Regions from separate parts of the Homo sapiens genome. Here region 2 is linked to region 1. Evidence: fine-mapped expression QTL. Tissue or cell type: whole blood. Region 1 holds a variant in brackets; the other region holds the start of a gene. All regions are shown on one strand. Distances are between the middles of the regions.

Region 1 (8,000 bases):
TTATCCTAATTCAGACAAAATAGACTTTAAACCAACAACAATCAAAAAGACAAAGAAGGGCACTACGTAATGATAAAGGGTTCAATTCAACAAGAAGACTTAACTGTCTAAAAGATAAATGTGCTCAAAACTGGAGCATTCAGATTCATAAAACAAGTTCATAGAGACCTATAGAGAAACTTAGATAACCACAGAATAATAGTGGGAGACTTCAACATCTCACTGACAGTACTAGACAGATCAAAGAGACAGAAAATGAACAAAGATATTCAGGACTTGAAGTCAACACTTGGCTAAATGGACCTAACAGCCATCTACAGAACACTCCACCCAACAACAACAGAATATATGTTCCTCTCATCTGTACATGGCATATATTGTAAAATTGATCACACTATCAGTCTAAAATTATTTTCAATAAATTTAAGAAAACCCCTGAAATCAGGCCAACCACACTCTTGGACCCGCAGTGTAATAAAAATAGAAGTCAACACTAAGACGAACTCTCAAAACCATACAATTACATGGAAATTAAACAACCTGTGCCTGAATGACTTTTGGGTAAACAATGAAATTAAGGCAGAAACCAATAAATTCTTTATAACTAATTAAAACAAAGATACAACATTCTCGGCTCTCTAAGACACAGGCAAAGCAGTGTTAAGGGAAAAGTTTATAGTGCTAAATGCCCATATTGAAAAGTTAGAAGGATCTTAAATTAACAACCTAATATCATACCTAAAGGAAACAGAAAAACGAGAGGAAACCATCCCAAAGCTAGCAGAAGAAAAGAAATAACCAAAATCAGAGCAGAATGGAATGAAATTGAGTCATGAAAAGCCATACAAAAGATAAATGAAACTAAAAGCTGGTTCTTCGAGAGAATAAATAAATTGGATAGGTCACTAGCTAGACCAATAAGGAAAAAAAAAAAAGAGAGAGAGAAGATCCAAAAAACACAATCAGAAATGGCAAAGTGGACGTTACCGCCAACCACACAGAAATACAAAAAACTCTCAGAGACTACGATGAACATCTTCATGCAAACAAAGTAGAACACCTATGAGAAATTGGTAAATTTCTGGAAACATACAACTTCCCAAGATTGAACTAGGAAGAAACTGAAATCCTGAACAAATCAAAAATGAGTTCTGAAACTGAATGAGTAATAAAAAGTCTCTGAGCCAAAAAAAAAAAAAAAAAAAAAAGCAAGCCCAGGACCCAACAGATTCACAGACAAATTCTACCAGAAGTGTAAAGAAGAGCTGGTACCAATGCTACTGAAATTATTCCAAAAAAATGAGGAGGAAGGATCCCTCCCTAACTCATTTTATGAGGCCAGCATCATTCAGATATGAAAACCTGGCAGAGACACAACAAAAAAGAAAACTTCAGGACAGTTATCACTGATGATCATAGATGCAAAAATCCTCAACAAAATACAAGCCAACTGAATCCAGCAGCATATCAAAAAGCTAGTCCACTATGATTAAGTAAGCTTTATCCCTGGGATGCAAGTTTGGTTCAAGATATACAAACCAATAAATGTGATTCATCATATAATAGAACTAAAAATAAAAACATCCCTTCATGATATAGACCCTCAACAAATGAGTTACTGAAGGAGCATACCTCAAAATAATTGGAGCCATTTATGACAAAACCACAGCCAACTTCATACTGAATGGGAAAAAGCTGGAATACTCCCTTTGAGAACTGGAACAAGACAAGGATGCCCACTCTCACTACTCCTATTCAACATAGTAATGGATGTCCTAGCCAGTGCAATTAGGCAAGAGAAAGAAACACAGACATCTAAATAGGAAGAATGGAAGCCAAACTATGCCTCTTCATAGGTGAAACACTTTTATACCAAGAAAACCCCATAGTAGCCTCTCAAGAGCTCCCAGATCTGACAAATGACTTCAGCAAAGTTTCAGGTTACAAAACTCAATGTACAAAAATCTGTAGCATTTCTATACACCAACAACATCCAAGCTGAAAGCCAAATCAAGAATGCAATCCCATTCACAATAGCCACAAAAAAACTATAAAATACCTTGGAATACAGCTAAGCAGGGAGGTGAAATATCTCTACAATGAAAATTACAAACGAGTGCTCAAAGAATCAGAGACAACAGAAACAAAAGGAAAACATTCCATGATCACAGATAGGAAGAAGCAATATTGTTAAAATGGCCATACTGCCTAAGGCTATTTACAGAGTCAATGCTATTCCTATCATACTATCAATGACATTTTTCACAGGATTAAAAAAAGCATCCTAAAATTCATTTGGAGCCAAAAAAACAAACAAACAAAAAAAGCCCAAATAGCCAAAGCAATCCTAAGCAAAAAGAACAAAGCCAAAAGCATCACACTACCTGACTTCGAACGGTAGTACAATGCTACAGTAAGCAAAACAGCATGGTTATGCTCAGCAAAAGAAATAATCAGCAGAGTAAAAAGACAACCTATAGAGTGGGAGAAAATCTTTACAAACTATGCATCCAACAAAGTACTAATATCCAGAATCTATAAGGAACTCAAAAACAGACATAGACCAGTGGAACAGGTTACAGAACGCAGAAATAAAGCCGCACACCTATAGCCATCTACTCTTCAACAAACTTGACAAAAACAAGCAATGGGGAAAGGAATCCCTACTCGGAAATTGTGCTGGGATAACTGGCTAGCCATATGCAGAAAACTGAAACTGGACTCCATACGTTTCACCGTTTACAAAAATCACCTCAAGATAGATTAAAGACTTAAATGTAAAACCCAAAACTATAAAAACCCTGGAAGATATCCTAAGAAATACCATTCTGGACACAGGCCATTCTGGACATATCCTAGGAAATTTCAATTCTGGAAAACACTTTATGATGAAGACGCCAAAAACAATTGCAACAAAAACAAAAATTGACAAATGGGATCTAATTAAACTAAAGGGCTTCTGCACAGCAAAGGAAATCATCAACAAACCACCTATGGAATGGGAGAAAATATTTGCAAACCATGCATTCGACAAAAGTCTAATATCCAGAATCCAAAAAGAACTTAGAAAAATCAACAAGCAAAAACCTAACAACCCCATTAAATGGGCAAAGGAGAGGACCAGACACTTCTCAAAAGAAGACAAACACGTAGTCAACAAGTATATGGAAAAATATTCAACATCACTAACATTAGAGAAATGCAAAACAAAACTGCAGTGAGATACAACCTCACAGGAGGCAGAATGGCTATTATCAAAAAGTCAAAAAGTAACAGATGCTGGCGAGCTTGGGGAGCTACTCCCAGGTCTTTGGAAGGCTGAGGCATGAGAATTGCTTGAACCTGGGAGGCAGAGGTTGCAGTGAGCTGAGATTGGGCCATTGTACTCTAGCCTGGGCAACAGAGCAAGACTCCGTCTCAAAAAAAAAAAAAAAAAAAAAACCCGAGAGAGAGAGAGAAAGAAAAACCCACAGCCAGCATTATACTGAATGGGGAAAAGTTGAAAGCATTCCCCCGAGAACTGGAACAAGACAAGGATGCCCAGTTTCACCACTTCTATTCAACATAGTACTGGAAGTCCTAGCCAGAGCAATCAGACAAGAGAAAGAAATAAAGGGCATCCAAATCAGTAAAGAGGAAGTCAAACTGTTGCTATTCATGATTATATGATCATA[T/C]AATGAGAAAACCCTAAAGACTCATCCAAAAAGCTCCTAGATCTGATAAATGAATTCAGTAACGTTTCAGGATACAAAATCAATGTACACAAATCAGTAGCACTGGTATACACCGATGGTGACTGAGCTGAGAATTAAGTCAAGATCTCAACCCCTTTTACAACAGCTGCAAAAACAAACAAACAAACAACAAACAAACAAACAAAACCAAAGAAAAAACCCCAAGCAAACGAACTTAGGAATATACCTAACCAAGGAGGTGAAAGACTTCTACAGTGAAAACTACAAAACACTGCAGAAAGAAATCATAGATGACACAAACAAATAGAAACACATCACACGCTCATGGATAGGTAGAATCAATATTGTGAAAATGACCATACTGCCAAAAACAATCTACATCATCATTCTTCCCTGAACTAGAAAAAGCAATCCTAAAATTAATGTGGAGCCCAAAAATAGCCCGCATAACCAAAGCAAGACTAAGCAAAAAGAACAAATGTGGATGCATCACATTACTTGACTTCAAACTATACTATAAGGCTATAGTCACCAAAGCAGCATAACACTGGTATAAAAATAGGCACATAGACCAATGGAACAGAATAGAGAACTGAGAAATAAAGCCAAATACTTAAGCCAACTGATCTTTAACAAAGGAAACAAAAACATAAAGTTGGGAAAGGACACCCTATTCAACAAATGGTGCTGGGATAATTGGCAAGCCATATGTAGAAGAATGAAACTGGATCCTCATCTCTCACCTTATACAAAAATCAACTCAAGATGGATCAAAGACTTAAATCTAACACCTGAAACTATAAAAATTCTAGAAGGTAACATTGGAAATACCCTTCTAGACATTTGCTTAGGCAAAGACTTCATGACCAAGAACCCAAGAGCAAAGGCAACAAAAACAAAGATAAATAGATGGGACTTAATTAAACTAAGAAGCTTCTACACAGCAAAAGAAATAATCAGCAGAGTAAAAAGACAACCTATAGAGTGGGAGAAAATGTTTACAAACTATGCATCCAACAAAGTACTAATATCCAGAATCTATAAGGAACTCTAACAAATCAGCAAGAAAAAACCAAATTATCCTATCAAAAAGTGTGCTAAGGACATGAATAGACACTTCCCAAAAGAAGATATATAAATGGCCAAGAAACATGAAAAAATCCTCAATATCACTAATTATTAGGGAAATGCAAACAAAACCACAATGCAATACCATCTCACTCCTCCAAGAATAGCCATAATCAAAAAAATAAAAAAAAAAAATAGATGTTGCCATGGGTGTAGTAAAAAGGAACACTTTCACACTGCTGGGGGGAATGTAAACTAGTACAACCACTATGGAAAAGAGTATGAAGATTTCTTAAATAATTAAAAGTAGATCTACCATTTGATCTAGCAATCCCAATACTGGGTATCTACCCAGAGGAAAAGAAGTCATTATATGAAAAAAACACTTGCACACGCATGTTTATTGCAGCACAATTTGCAATTGCAAAAAATACGGAACTAGCTCAAATGCCCATCAATCAATGAATGCATACAGAAAATGTGGTGTATATATACGTATCTATGTGTATATATGTGTATGTATACACACACACACACACACACACACACACACACCATCGACAGAATACTACTCAGCCATAAAAAGGAATGAAATAATGGCATTCACAGCAACCTGGAAGGAGTCGGAGACCATTATTCTAAGTGAAGTAATTCAGGAATGAAAAAACCAAACATTGTATGTTCTGACTTATAAGTGGGAGTTATGCTATGAGGATGCAAAAGCGTAAGAATGATACAATGGGCTTTGGGGACTTAGGGGGAAGAGTAGGAGGAGGGTGAGCGATAAAAGACTACACCTTGGGTGCAGTGTACACTGCTCTGGTGATGGGTGCACCAAAATCTCAGAAATTACCACTAAAAATATTTTCCATGTAAACAAACACCACCTGTTCCTTAAAAACTAATGAAAAAAGAAAAAAGACATGAGATCAACCTAAATGCCCATCAATGGTGAACTGGATAAAGAAAATGTGGCACATAGGAGGGGGTATATCTCAGGGTTAGAGCATCAGACTGCGGACCAAGAAAATGTGGCACATATACACCATAGAATAATACACAGCCACAAGAAAGAACGAGATCATGTCCTTTGGAGCAACGTGGATGGAGTTGAGGCCATTATCCTAAGTGAATTAACACAGGAACAGGAAACCAAATATCCCATATTCTTACTTATAAGTGGGAGCTAAACACTGAGTACACATGGACAGAAAGAAGGGAACAATCGTCACTAGGTGAATTTGAGGGTGGAGGGTGGAAGGAGGGGGAGAATAGAAAAACTACCTATTGGGTATTATACTTATTACCTGGGTGACAAAATAATCTGCATACCAAACCCCTGTGACATGCAATTTATCCATATAACAAGCCTGCTCATGTACCCCTTGAGCCGAAATAAAAATTGGAGAAGAAAAAAACTCGTAAGAGTTGTCACTTTGGGTAGAGTTATGGGCATTATGATTTGAAGGCATATTCTAAGGTCATTCCTCCTTTATTTATAAAGTTCTAATTTTTAAAATAAAAGTGCATTTGAGTATTTTATCATAAACATTAATTTAAGAATTCACTGGATTTTGTAGTAACTATGTAATGGATGAACTTTGCTATGAGTGTCATTGGAATGGATAAGCAGAGACAAAAGTTGATGAATTAAGAAATGAAAAGGAGTTAGGATCTAGAGACAGTAGTTACAGACTTATTTTGAGGAATTCAAACATAAGACAAATGGATGGTAGATAAAGATGGATGGGGCATTGGATATACGGCAAGAGTTTTTGTTTGCTTGCTTTCTTTAAAATGGGAGAGTTTATATTTATACACCTATGTCTATATAAAATGTTTCTCAAATATACTTATATATATACACATACATATATATGAAATGTGCAACTGTACTTACATACAGCTATGAGGAAGAGGCCATTAGATAGATTAAAACATACAGATATGTTATAATACAGATGAAAAGGAATAAATTGATCATGTGAATTTTCTTGATGATAAACATTTAGGGGCTATGAATGTTTGTTAAAAAAATTTCGTACAATTTGGGACATGGCTCTGCTTTTAATCAACTGCTTTCCAAGGATTTTAACACTGAAACGAATTTTAATAGAGCTTTTCTATACAACATTCTGAATATTTTAACAGTTTTAATGAAGCATCCTTAATTGAATATTTTCATAAGAAAAAATGAGAAAGAAATTACCCTAATAGAAATGCCCATTGCCAGGGAAATTTCATAATGAAGTGTGAAAAAACAGCAGCTGCACTTGCCTCCATAAGGCATGGACCTACAGCCAATCTGAAACAAACGACCTTCAAATGCCTCAAAGCCTGAAACACAAAACAGTCACACTTAGATACATTTACAATGGCCAACAAGAAAATTATTTTAACAAATGTCAAACTATAAAGTCTTTTTTCATAAGAAGCTTTCACTAAACGAAATCTCATTTCAACAGATTGTCCCACTGGACTTTGAACTCTATTACATTTTATATGTCATCATAGGTTGGATTATAAACAATTTCATCTTTTTAAAAATATTATTATATTTTAATTATTAAAAGATCAATTTTACTGTGATTAAATAGCTAATGCTACCTTCCTGAACTTTCCTAATAAATAGTATAATAATAGTGTCCTATTAGTGTTTTCCCATTAACTTTTTGATATGAACTGTTTGATTAACTTAATAAGTATAAATAGAATACCAACATGCCAAAGAAAATAACTTAAAAACTGCATAATTCATTTTAAAAGGGAGAACTTTTCAATGTTCTCCTTGGTTCATACTTTCTGCTGGAGAATATAATCTTATTGGCTATAATTATTTATGCTCTTGAGCTATTTCTATTAAACCACATTTGCCACATTTATTTGAGTGGCTGTCATATTCATGAATAGTCATCTTCTTATAGATGGGATTTATGATCCCTAGAATGTAATATTTTAAGAAATGCTTTAAAAGATTGGATTTTACAATAATGCAAAGATAATCAGGAACATAATCCTGTGGAGAAAATGTCATAAAAAAATTACTGAAATCCTTAATCTCCCTAAAAAAAGAAAAAGACTTTTATAAGGTTTTTCTTATCCTATGTTAACTGAAAAGTACATACTTCTCCATAGAAGAGCCTCCCAAATAATATAGGTGCTATATAAGAGACATTTATCTCTGTGCAAATGATTAGATCGCTAATAAAGACCTTACAACACAGTCAATTCTCTTCA
Region 2 (8,000 bases), 180 kb before region 1:
CTGACCAACATGGAGAAAGCTTGTCTCTACTAAAAGTACAAAATTAGCCAGGCATGGTGGCACATGCCTGTAATCCCAGCTACCTGGGAGACTGAGGCAGGAGAATCTCTTGAACCCAGGAGGCAGAGGTTGCGGTGAGCCGAGATAGTACCATTGCATTCCAGCCTGGGCAACAAGAGCGAAACTCCGTCTCAAAAAAAAAAAAATAGCAGGCTGAAGGAATAACTTTTCACAGAGAACCCAAAAGACTCTCTAAGAAACCAAAGGTTTAGATTCTGTACAGAAAACCCAGAGAATCACCTAGGAAATAGCCAAGACTAGCCACAGAATCTCTCACTAAATACAAATTTCATTTAACCAGCTCAGATAAAAAAAATCCTGGTATTTTCCTGCACCTCCCCCTTCTGTCTCCCAATCCATTAACAAATCCAACTGAAGAAATCCTCTTGTTTCTACATGTAAAACGTGTTCTCACAACCATTCTCACCATTTCACTGCCACCATGCTTGTCCAAGCCAGAAGTCATCTCTTGCCCATACATAGACCAGCAATAGTCCCCTGGTTGGTCTCCAGGCTTCCACTCTCCTGCACTGTAGCCTTCACACAACAGAGTGACCTTTAAAAAGGCAAATCTAATCATGCTACTCTAAGCTCAAAGCCTCCAATAACTTCCCATCACATGTAGAATAAAAGCCAAAGTGTTTCCTATGGCTCACAGCCTTTCATGATGTGCCCTAGACTTTGAACTCCTCTCCTACCCTCTGGTTCCCAGGTCTCCAGCCACACTGGCCTGCTGACTATTCCTGAAACTTGTCAAGCTCGTGCCTGCCTCAGGGCCTCTATCCTCCCCACTCCTGTGTTTTTCCTCTTTGCTGGAAATGCACTTCTCCTTAAAAGTGACCTTTTCAAACAGGTCTTTTTGTTTAGAAGTCACCTTATCAAAATACCTATCTTGAACCACTTTTTAAAAAATAGCAATGCTTTCCAACCAGCCTTCACTGTCTCTTCCTTTAACCTGCTCAATTTTTCTTCAGTGTGCCACCTGCCTTACATTATTTATTAATTTGGTATATATGTCTATCTCCTCCATTAGAATGTCCATTAGGGAAAGGACTTTGTTTTCTTTACCACTCGATTTCAAGTACTTAGAATAGTGCCTGCCACATTAGAGGTACAAAATAAATATGAGATAATTAACTAGGTGAATAGATAAATAAATGAATGATATCACCAAGATATGTTTCAAGTTCTTACACAAACACAATATTTGGCCCAGTGTCTACTATAAACGGTAGAATATTTCCTCAAGTCAACACCAAAAAGGGATGTTATAATAAAGCAGGTCGGACAACAGTCTCACATTACTGAATAACGATACTGATCTGATGTTGATGATTGCTTCTTTACTTTTTTTCTTTTTTTTTTTTTTTTGAGAGAGGGTGTCACTCTGTTGCCCAGGTTGGAGTACAGATCACGGCTCACTGCAGCCTCAACCTCCTGGGCTCAAACGATCCTCCCACCTCAGCCTCCCTCGTAGCTAGGACCACAGGTGTACGCCACCACGCCCAGTTAATTTTTTAATTTTTTGTAGAGACAGGGTCTCGCCAGTTGCCCAGACTGGTCTAAACTCCACCTACCTCTGCCTCCCAAGTGCTGGGATTATAGGCATGAGCCACTGTGCCCAGCCTGATGATTATTTTCAACAGGCCTTGTGTTTCCTAAGCCCCAAAAGCCTTCCCATTTCTCATTCCACTGCCATTTGAGACCCATGGCCACCTGATTGAAACCTCAAGGTTTTGCTAAGAATTTATGAAGAGAGTTAAGAAATCTCTTCAAATTGTTCCTATGAGGAAGTTATTTCATACTATGAGCAAATTCATTTTCATTAAGTATCTGTTGTAACCAAACGTTGTTTCTTAGCTTCTTAGCTCTGTAATATGGCACAATAATCTGACTTACTGAAGCCACTCATTATTTCCCATTGGCTTAATTCTTTCTTTCTTTTTTTTTTTTTTTAGAGATAGAATCTCTCTATGTTGGCCATGCTGGTCTTGAACTCTTGGCCTCAAGAAATTTTCCCACCTCGGCCTCATAGACTCTTTCTATGTTGGCCATGCTGGTCTTGAACTCCTGGACTCAAGGGATCCTCCTACCTTGGCCTCCCAAAGCTCTCACGTACCAGCACCCATTGGCTTAATTATTTCAGTAAAATCAGGCAAGGAGGAACCCTACAAAATAAACACAGGCATTCTCAAAGCAGATATAAGTGAAAACTCAGAGTATACTGTGGTCAGCTGTGTTCTCTATCACAAGTAGTTTGTCAACTTAAAATAAAGTACTAAAGTTTGGGAATGATCTACTCTAAAAATACATCGGACAATGGTCAATGTCATTTACAACATTCACCTCCTTTCTGATACACATCTCAGGAAAAAAAAAAAAAAAACTACTAAGTACCAGGTCAGAAATTTGGCACAACCCTAGATGACCACCTTGTCATGCAAATAAACTTAGAATGGTGCTCCTGAAAGTCAGCCACAGTGCTTCAAAAACACATGATTTTTTAAAACACCAAACTAAGCATACCACATAGTATAGAGACCAGGCTATGGAGTTGAGACCACCTGGGTTAGAATTCCATTTCTTTCCATTTAGTTGCTGTCACCTTCCTAATTTCTCTGTGTTCCATAATTCCATATTATCCATAAAATTCAGATATGAACACTTACTATACAGAGTTGTTATGAGGATTGGACAATGTATGCATCCCACAAGTAGATCAATTACAAGTACATTTTGCCCCAAGTAAAGACAACACGTGGGAACGCTGTGCAAGAGGGAACAGCAAAAGCAGTTGGAGGATGGAAGTCAGTTTGCAAACCTATGCGCACAGGCAGCCAAACACGAAAACGTTCCCCACAAGTAGTCTGTAAATTGGAGACTCCATTGGGATACACACACACACACACACACACGCCCTGAGAGGAAATAGCACCTTTCTTCATCACCAAGTTAGCCTTAAAAATTATTTACCCGTTGTTAGCCACACTAGCACTGACAAACCCAACTTTACTCTTGTAGGTCATTCTCCACAACGTCTGTGCTGCGTCAATCCCAAATCTGACTCCCTGACGCTTAACAGCGAAAATAAAAAACCGAGACATTACTCAATAGAGTTAACCCTTACTTAACAAAACGCTGTTGTCCCCTGTGGCGTGCAGACAGTAGAGACAGTAATTCCCGACCTTATGCTTGTCAGTGACGGCATGCCCTTTGTATACACGCTTCAGTAGAGAACGACTGCAGTAAGTAAACTGCTAGTAGCAACACTGTTCCCCTATCTAAACTTCCCCTTTCCAGAGTTACTGATGTCCCAACATGGGTCGGTCGCTCAGTCTCCGTCAAGCCCGTACCCCATAGCTTGGGCATTTCCCCCCGCAGATCACAAGATGCAAAGGGGAAGTTACTACCAAACCGACGAGAATGGCCCAGAGCTGGGGGCTGCCAGGCGGTTCCTGGGCCCCTCTCAGCACCAGAAGAAGGCGGGCGCAGGCTCGCCGCGGGTCGGCCGCACGCCATACCTGGATCAGGCCCTGCTGGAACAAGGCGCTGTGCACGCAGCCAGGGACCGCCCCGGGCAGCTCCAGCGAGCCGTTCCCATTGCAGATGCTCCAGTTGCCACGCAAGCTGTAACTGAGCTCCGCGGCGGTGGTGCCTGCACCGCACAGCGCGAGCAGCAGGAGCAGGTGGAGGCGCATCTTGAGATCCCGCGCCACCGAGATGTGGAGAGATCGAAAGGCAGCGCTGCAAGGGACCGGCGGTGAAGCCACTCACCCCCTCGGAAGTAGCCGAGGCTTTAGGTCCCCGCCCCGGCCCCGCCCCTAGGTCAGCTGAGCGCTCTCCGGGCGCAGCCGCGGGCGGGAGGGGAACGAGGAGGCTGCGCCTGCACCCGCTGAAAGCCGGGCGTCGCGGGTGCGGGAGCTGCAGCCCCCGAGAATAGCTACAGGCTGGGGGGCATTGCGGTCTGAGCCTTCCCTCGGCGCTTCTTCCCGCCGCCTCAGTACATACAACTGGAGGCAAGAATCTTGCACGGTAATTGGGACAGAAAGATCCCTGGGCGCGCAGTGGCACAAAGCCTCGGGAGATCAGAGACCGACTGTACGTGGAGACCATAGCTGGAGAGTCCCCTCACTCCTTCAGAGAACCCAAACTGGGAGACAACCCACCACTTCCCTTCCGCCAAATTTACACAGACCCTCGTCTACCTGGTAGCGTAACACTCACCCCGCTGCAGCTCAACTCGCGGGTCTCAGAGCCTACCCCGCCCTTCAAAGAGTAAACAAGTACTAGCAGTATCTCCATCAGAAGGTTGTTCTGAGGGCTAACCAAGAAAATGCGACTATAGCATGCAGCATGGAGCCTGGCCCAGAGAAGGCATTCACGTTAGCTATTGTTACTAGCGGCCTGCGTCCTTATGTTTCATAAAGCCCCACGGAGGTTTCTGAGGTTCTGGAACCTGCACTAGGCGCGCAGCTGAGTTTAAAATCCTCTGCACTCACTAGCTGTGGGACCTGGGCAAGCCGCAAAATCTCCATCTCCGTTTCTTGAAGTTTTCAAGGTGTTATAAGTATAAAATGAGTAAACATATGTGATCGTCCCTAACAATGCCAGAGTACCCAAGAAATACCACTGACTTATTTCGGGTCTTGTAGTCAAATGGTCTACCTGAGTCCCATTTTTGCAATAGGATGTAACAGTAATCCTAGAAGTTAAGACGGAATTTTACATTGCATAAAATAGACTGCCTTTCTCCTGTGTTGACGCTATCTGCCGTATATTTATGCTTCGGAAGAAGTCCTTGAAAAGAAATTTTCTCTCATCAAATCTGAGCTTTGTTTCGCCTTACAATGGCCTTGGAATTGCCTGATTCTGCAGACACCGGGCAATATCTTACTTTGCAAAGTCAGCATTATTTACAAGCCCTGAATATCTTGGCTTAAAGGACAGTATGGATTATCCAACCCAAGCCGCTGGCTTTACAGATGAGGGAACTGAGTTCAAAGAGATCGGGGCCAGGCGCGGTGGCTCACGTCTGTAATCCCAGCACTTCTGGGAGGCCGAGGCGGGTGGATCACTTGAGGTCAGGAGTTCGAGGCCAGCCTGGCCAACATGGTGAAACCCTGTCTCTATTAAAAATACAAAAATTAGCTGGGCGCGTGGTGGCACGTGCCTGTAGTCGCAGGTGCTCGGGAAACTGAGGCAGGAGAACCGCTTGAACCCAGGAAGCAGAGGTTGCAGTAAGCCGAGATGGCACTACTGCACTCCAGCCTGGGCTATAGAGAAAGACTCTAAAAAAAAAAAAAAAAAAAAGATCAGGTGACTTGCCTGTCACATAGTGGCAGACAGGATTAGAACCCTCCTCTTCAAGGTCCTACTGTCAGAGCCCAATGATGCTATAGGGGAAACGCTCTCACTGCTTCAAAGCCTTCCTCACTCACTCCAGAAGCATTTTTACCTTTGATAGAAACAAAGCTCTCAATTCAAATTATATGCCATAATTCACGGCATTAAATGGCTAGCCATGGTCTGTGCAACACTGATAACACAAGGTTTATGGCAACAAGAGCGGCAAAGGAATTTTTTCATAATTCCCAGAGATTTCATTAAGCCAAATCAGAGGAAAATTCATCCTTGATGATACATATGGATATATTCTGTTTATTAAGAAATATAATTTTTAGAAAAACAATAATAGAAGATTCTCATTCCTCCTTTCATTCCAGGATGCAAGCATAACATCATTTAGGTTACTTCACTTTGACAACAGAGAACATCAAAGAATAATCAAAGCCCTAATAAGTACTCTTCCTAAAATTGCAATTGGCACAGATGACATGATGTTTTCATTTTGTTATAGGATAATTTTTGTCCATGATTTTCTGGTAAATAAACCTTATTTAGAGATAACATAAAACTTCTCAACTTATGTAATTTAAAGTCATGATACCAAATGCAATGTTTAAAATAGTTATGGGTATCTTTAACTTACACTGTATAAACAGATTTCATTTTGATCATTTCATTTGATGCTTCCCAAAACTTGAATTATTTAGAACAAGTGATCGTTCCCTGGTTTAAAAAGATAAATAATGCCCACGGTGATTAAATGATGTGTAGGGTCAGTATCCTGTCACAACAGACCAATGGAAGTAGTTAGGCCCTTTGCTATATGACAACATTTCCTTCATATCTAAATATATAAAATTGGTAAACTCATTAGAACACCATGGTATATACCAAGGCCAATGATATTCCAATCCCATGATATATTACAGAAGTTATAATAAGGGAAAGAAAATGAAAGAGTAATCAGATGTGGAGTGGACATTTGCCTTTAGACTCATAGTGTCTGATTAAACCCCAGGACTGGGGATAATAGCCCATAAGTATCCTGCCCAAAGGTTTGACATACTTCCCCAGAGTTTGAAGCCCCAAATGTTAGAACAAAGAGAGAAGGTAGTGGAAACTATGTACACCACTAGAATTTGGTGTGTCAAGGATGCATATGCATGAGTTTCCTATAAACCAAGAGGACACCGTAGGAAGTAACCAGGCTTGAGCCAGTATAATGGGATTCTACCCAAGAGAGTCCAAGAAGTCAACTAGAGGACACATGGCCTATGTCAGCAAACTGTGTATATATATACATATACTGTATATATACATATATACATATACGTATATATATACATATACTGTATATATACATACATACATATACTGTATATATACATATATACATACATATACAAATATATATTTTAAATATATATAATTTATATAATAATATAAATATATAAAAATATATAATATAATTATATTATATAATATAATTATATAATTAGGAATATAATATATTATATTCCTAAATAATGCATGGGTCAAAACAATAATAGATTTCCAATTTCTGGCCTGGCATGTAAGGACCTTGGAAGTCATCACTCTATCCTAAAAAGCAAGTAAAAAGCTGCACAAATTGAAAATAGACAACTCTTCTTAGATGAGTCAAAGAAGTGAGGTCACAGGGCAGACTGCTGCCCCAAAATTAGAGATGTAGACAGGTAGATACAGGCAATTACAACTTAACTGAGTAGACCACACACACTACCCCACAACCGTTGTCCCATAGCTGAAATCTCAGTGGGAACCAGTACAGAGTAGGAAGACCTGGACTATAATTGACAAATTACTGGAGGACCAATATGCACAAATTTGAGAGTTAAAAACTCCAAGGGGGCCCAGTCTTAGGGGAGCAGCTGTGCTTTTGTAAGTTTGCCTCCAGGAGCTCCACAAAGCTCTCATAGTGAAGATTGAAGAAAAATCCTCTCGTGTTTCCTGCAAGGGAGGAGGAAAGTAACTATTCTGAATGTGCCAGAGATTCTGTGCTTCTTAACAAGACCCACTCTCAAAAGAAACAATTTTACCAGAGCTGAACCAACTGGGGTTTTATCAGAGTCTCGCCAGCCTGGGAGAAGGAAAATACCCAACTCCAGCCCCCCATAGACATTCTGCCCCATCTAAGGGGGTGAAACATAGCTGAGAAGCACTGTGAAGTTCACAGTCCAGGGGACTGGGCTCACTAGATGACTGAGACCTAATCAGAGGAAAATAGACCATTTTCCCTCTCCCAACACCTTCCCAACACATCACTGAAGGCCTATTTATGGCAATTCCTTTCACCCAGGATGTCATGTATGGCTTTCAACAAAAATTTACAAAGCCAAAGATACAACTTGGAAAGACAAAGCAAATGCCAAAACCAAACTCACATATGGGAGGAATGTCAGAATTATCAGTCCAGGAATTTAAAATAACTATGATTAATATGCTGAGAGCTCTAATGGAAAATTTACACAACATACAAAAACAGATGGGTAACGTAAGCAGAGACATGGAAATTCTAAAAAATAATAAAAAATGCTAGAGATGAAAAGCACCAT

The links. PIP is the estimated chance that this variant, and not a neighbour inherited with it, causes the effect.
Region 2: MANBA starts here. The variant in region 1 is fine-mapped to the expression of MANBA in whole blood (INTERVAL, PIP 0.97).

Annotation. Positions count from the first base shown.
Region 1 is chr4:102,938,221-102,946,220 of GRCh38, forward strand. It overlaps SLC9B1 (solute carrier family 9 member B1), which reads right to left. Exons shown (of 12, transcript NM_139173.4): 6 at 6,973-7,100. Among named protein-coding and RNA genes, the nearest start is that of CISD2, 73 kb to the left of the region's middle. RefSeq lists an enhancer at 1-372. The variant T/C (reference allele first, on the strand shown) is at 3,675.
Region 2 is chr4:102,757,137-102,765,136 of GRCh38, forward strand. MANBA (mannosidase beta) reads right to left here and starts at 3,832. Exons shown (of 17, transcript NM_005908.4): 1 at 3,582-3,832. The coding sequence starts at 3,758. RefSeq lists an enhancer at 3,427-3,776 and a silencer at 3,867-3,996.